2 separate regions of the Homo sapiens genome follow, and region 2 is linked to region 1. Evidence: fine-mapped expression QTL. Tissue or cell type: aorta. Region 1 holds a variant in brackets; the other region holds the start of a gene. All regions are shown on one strand. Distances are between the middles of the regions.

Region 1 (2,500 bases):
TGAATGGGGCTCCCTCCACCCCTGAACAGTTGAAATTCACCCTCCTTGCCCCACCCCACCCCCTTTACTGAGCACTGCAGCTGGGCTTTGTGTTGTTTTGGGGCAGGATGTGGGGGCGGGTGGAGGGGTTCAGGCCCCCTCCTCCGCAGGGGAGAACAATGAGGCCGCTAGTCAGGGTGGTGGGGCAGAGGGAGTGGGTGGGGTGGGGGCCATGGAGGGACATCAGAGGCTCTGCGGCCCGGCCCCTGGGGGGACAGCTGAGTGATGAGGCCTGAGTCACACGCCCTGAGTGCTCCTTGAACTCCCGCTGCGTTCCTGTCGAGACACATCCAGAAATGCACAGGGTAAATATTTAGAGGTAATCATTTTTTTTCGGCACCTCGAGCCTCCTGCCTCACTGAGAATGAGCCAGGGGTGGGACACCAGGGGGAGGAGTCCGATCTGGCCCAGCTTCTGCGCTTGGGTTTCTGTGGGTGCCACCCTACGTTCCCCTGACACTGTCCAGTGTGCTCCTGCACCTTCGCATTTCAGCCACAATCCAAGACTAGTGGGGCCTGAAAACATCCTGAGGACCAAACCCTGGCTTAAAATCCATCCACAGGCTGGGCGCAGTGGCTCTCTCCTGTAATCCCAGCACTTTGGGAGGCCAAGGCAGGAGGATCACTTGAGGTCAGGAGTTCGAGACCAGCCTGGCCAACATCATGAACCCCATTTCTACTAAAAATACAAAAATAGCCAGGCGTGGTGGCAGGTGCCCATAATCCCAGCTACTCAGGAGGCTGAGGCAGGAGAATCACTTGAGCCCCGGAGGCGAAGGTTGCAGTGAGCCGAGATCACACCACTGTACTCCAGCCTGGGTGACAACAGTGAAACTCTGGGGAAAAAAAAATCCATCAACAAACTCTCTGGGTTCTGCCTCTCTCCCACCTGAAACTATGGCCACAGCACACCACCTACAGCTTCTGCGGATCCCATTTCTAGACCGGCAAGCCCAGAGGTGTTCTGCAGGGGAGCAGGGAGGGAATGGTAGATGAGAAGCAGCGCTGGGTGCAGCATGCCAGTTCCTTGGTTCTA[C/T]CCTGCACGGAATGTCTTCCTTCCTTGGAGGACATGGAGTCCAGAGCCCAGGCTTTATCAAAGATAAAACATTTGAGACTAAACAGTCTTTTTATAGATTGGAACAGGACTCCCAAGCACACGCTCTCCAGGCTGTTCCCAGCCTGCCTTTCTGGGCACACAGAAAGCACACGCATTTCTTGGGGGGAAATGCAGACACTGAGGTTTGAGGGCAACAGTGCATGTCTAGGGAAAGGAGAAAGCCTCAAGAAGGCTTGGGGGCAGTGCCCAGCTTGTGGTGGTCTGGTCTGAGCCCACCTCTGTACCCCCTCAGGGAAGGGGCAGGCAGAGACGAGAATCAGGCATTAGGAGTTTGAAGTAGGATGGAATGCAAATGTGTCAGGCACACACACACAGTCTCACACACTGTTGCTCATCCAGGCACAAACTGTGAAGAAGATGCCAACACAGGGTAGGACCCACAGAGGAAGGTACCAACTCCTCTCTACTACTTTCCTCCTTCCATCTTTCCCTCAGTGTCCTGTGGGCAAGTGTCCCAGCCCCACAGGCCTGTGAAAAGGCACCAGCCCCTCTCCCACCGGCCTGTGGGGCTGGGACACTTGCCCACAGGACCCCGAGGGAAAGGCAAGAGGAGAAAAGCAAATATGTACCTTGTCCATACTATTTATTAGGCAGTCTGTAAGCATTAGCTCACTTAATCTTTACAAGCACCCTACCAGCTTGGTGCTGCCCTATTTTTATAGATGAGGTCAACTAGGGGCCCAGAGGTCAAGGGCCCAACGTCTGATAGGTAACTGCAGAGGAGAGATGTGACCTCAGGGCCTTTTGACTTCGAAGCTCAGTGCTCCTTTCTCTCTGTTTTCTTGAGTGTAAAATGGAGATAATGATGGAAGCTAATTTGGGGTTATTGTGAGAATGGAAGGAGGTTGTTTGGGTAAAGATTAGCCGGTGTCTGACACAGAGTGGACCTGCAGTAAATGCCAGGGTAATTATTGTGATTATTTTGTGTGCGGGGCCTCTAAGAGGACAGTGACACTGAAACCACCCACAGGGTCTGTCAGATAATATGAGCTTAAGATGATTGAGGCTGTGGATCCGCAGAGGGACTGGGATCCTTACCCCACCTGGGAATCTAGTGGTGTGCCAGTTCTGTGATGTGCCAAGGTGTCATGTCTTCCAGGTGGACTAAGACAGTGGTCCCTAACCTATTTGGCACCAGGGACCAGTTTCATGGAAGATAATTTTTTTCCACGGACAGGGGTGGAGTGTGGGGGATGGTTTCGGGATGAAACTGTTCCACCTCAGATCATCAGGCATTAGTTAGAGTCTCATAAGGAGCATGCAACCTAGACCCCTCGCATGCGCAGTTCACAGTAGGGTTCACACTCCTATGAGAATCTTTTGCTGCCTCGGCTGATCTGACAGG
Region 2 (2,625 bases), 30 kb before region 1:
TGGTCCAGCTATGCAGCCCCTCTAGCCCTGGGAGGTTATTGGGAGAGTGGAGAGGTGTTGATGAGAGGATCCTGGCATGTGGAAAGACAGGGTGGAAGAAATCCTGGATGCCTCTGAGGTCCCAGGTTTCTAGTATACCCTCTGGCTGGACCATGGGGAGATAGGGCAAAAAAAGGAAGGAGGGGGGCCCACAGCCTGCTCTAGCTCTGCGCGGGGGCTTGGCTCAGCATGGGAGAGACCAGAGAGAGCAAGAGGCTGCATGAAGGAAGCACAGCCAGCTCACTATGGTCTAAGGAGAGAACAGGGATTGACCTCAGTTTTAACCACCATGCCCTTTGCTCTCCAGGGCTCTGGGGCCGGCCCAGGTCAGCCACTTGGTGGGATTCCAGCCTCAGGGTGGCTGAGCTGCAGGTGCAGCACCCGGCCTCCAGGTGGCACCAATCCGCTTACTTTGAGGTGGGCTCTGACAACCAGCTGAGCTGCCCACAGTCCCTCAGACTCCCGAGGTCCTGGGAGCAGGGATCAAGGTGGTCCCCAGGCCGTAAACCTGACAGAGGCTGCAGGAGTGCATTTCCACCCAGGGTGCACTCAGCGGGTGTAACTCCACACCCGTTTCTTTGGAGTCAAGGCCCGGCCTCTCAGTGAGGAGACTGCTCCTGGTTGCCCACCGTCGGGTCATCCCAGCCTGCAGTGGAACCCTCCGCAGCCTGGCCTCTTCCAGGGTAGCCCCTCACTCCCCTCTCTCCTGTCCTAGCAGACAGGCCAGGGAGGGTGGACGAGTTCCAGCTCTGGGGATGTCCCATCAGCTGTGTCACCTTGAACAAATCATTTTGCCTCTTGGGTCTCAGTTTCCTGCAGTGTGAAACGTGGTGGAGGCATGAGGGGCAATGGGAGCCCCAAGGCCTCTTTCAGAGACCTCCTCTGGGTCCCATGTGACCTCGTGGCTGTCCCCAAAGGCAAGAGGGTCCCCAGCCCTGCGGCCAAGGCCCTGGGACACCCTATCCAAACAAATGCAGGTCTCTGACGGGCTGAGCTTTGCTCGCTTGGGTTTCTTTGCTTTCTTCCTTTTTTTTTTTTCTTTCCTGGATGAAATTCCTGCCAGCTCCGAAGGAAGGAGGGAAGAGGAGCGAGCCGCAGTGTAGAAAGTTTCCTTGACTCCTCCTCCGGCTGGGTCTCCCTCCCTTGCCAAGCCCAGCCTGTGAAACTGAATAACGAAGATCACTCAACAATGCCTGCCCCTCTCTGACTGCACCGTCCCGGCGCTCCCACCGCCGCCGCCGCCGCCCAATAGAGCCCCTGGGGCGGTCCCCACCGACGGTGCAGCCCGCCGGGACCGGGAGGAAGCAGCTGCGGCCATCGCGCCGTGCGTCCGCGCCCGGCCGCCAGGTGCCCCAGTAGCCCGACCGCCGAGATGCCCAGCCCGCCGGGGCTCCGGGCGCTATGGCTTTGCGCCGCGCTGTGCGCTTCCCGGAGGGCCGGCGGCGCCCCCCAGCCCGGCCCGGGGCCCACCGCCTGCCCGGCCCCCTGCCACTGCCAGGAGGACGGCATCATGCTGTCTGCCGACTGCTCTGAGCTCGGGCTGTCCGCCGTTCCGGGGGACCTGGACCCCCTGACGGCTTACCTGTGAGTACTGCCCGCCTGTCCCCGCCTGGTCCTGCGGGCTGCTGGCTAGCGCCCAGTCCCGGCCTCAGCAGGGCACCTGCTTGCTTGGTGCCCTGGGGCATGGGCATCCCGGAGAGGGTTTGCCCCCTTCCAAGTTGACCGTTGCGGGACTGGGGAGGGGAGAAGAGTCTGAGACTAAATACCAGGCGAGCAGGGAGACCGGGCTTCCCTGACTTGGCTTCCCCATTGGCCTCCGTGCTTGTGGGCTGACTATGGGAGCCCAGGCTTGGCGAGGTGGGTTCTGGACCCTGAGCGGGAGGGCGCGGGGCTGGCTGCTCCATCTCCTGTTGCTGCATTCTCTTCTAGCAGAGCAGTGCCCGGGATGGTGGCTGAGGGTAAAGCTGACAGAACTGGAGGTGGAGGTGAGGGGAGCGTGCCCCAGTAGGGTGGAAATAATGTCTGTTCTTCTGCCATGGTGAGGACAACAGGGCTGTCACACTGAGGCTGGGTGGCCTTCGTGGGGGCGGGGGGGGCGGGTTTCCTAGAAGCTGGGAGGGGGGCCTTATCCACTCTTGTCTCCTCAGAAAGGGACTCTGCCAGCACCATCTCCCTTCACTGGGGCCTCCTGGCTCCCCCAGGGGCCTCCCTAAAGTCATGTCCCAAGAGGCTGTGTTGGAGACACTAATTTGTGGGCAGGCGCCGAGGCTGAAAACCAGAGAACCATTTTTAGCGTCTGAGTTGGGGTGAGATGGCGCGTGAAGGGGACCCTACTGGGGGCAGCTGTCCTGTCTGTCTGGCTCATGGGAGCTTCCCCTCAGAGCTGGAGGGCTGGGGGCTCTGGCTGCTCACCACCTGGGCAGGAGGAGGGTGAGAGAGCACATTCCAGGCCACCCACCTGCACCCCCAGCCCCGCTCTGGGGCAAGGAAACCTCCTCCAGCCCAGCTCTGCAGGCTCTATCAACTTCCTCAGAGGAGCTGGGAGCAGGTGGGAAAGCCTGGTGGGGCCTTCTGCTGAGGGCTAGG

Which allele goes with the higher level. Alleles are on the strand shown, and positions count from the first base shown. SD is a standard deviation of normalised expression in the study named.
With allele C in place of T in region 1, the expression in aorta of the gene that starts at base 1,221 in region 2 is higher (small effect, 0.26 SD a copy in GTEx).

Evidence for each region. PIP is the estimated chance that this variant, and not a neighbour inherited with it, causes the effect.
Region 2: LGR6 starts here. The variant in region 1 is fine-mapped to the expression of LGR6 in aorta (GTEx, PIP above 0.99).

What each region holds. Positions count from the first base shown.
Region 1 is chr1:202,222,221-202,224,720 of GRCh38, forward strand. The region is part of intron 1 of LGR6 (leucine rich repeat containing G protein-coupled receptor 6); the gene reads left to right. Among named protein-coding and RNA genes, the nearest start is that of LGR6, 30 kb to the left of the region's middle. RefSeq lists a silencer at 1,761-2,055. The variant C/T (reference allele first, on the strand shown) is at 1,075.
Region 2 is chr1:202,192,579-202,195,203 of GRCh38, forward strand. LGR6 (leucine rich repeat containing G protein-coupled receptor 6) reads left to right here and starts at 1,221. Exons shown (of 18, transcript NM_001017403.2): 1 at 1,221-1,623. The coding sequence starts at 1,412. RefSeq lists enhancers at 1-610, 305-354.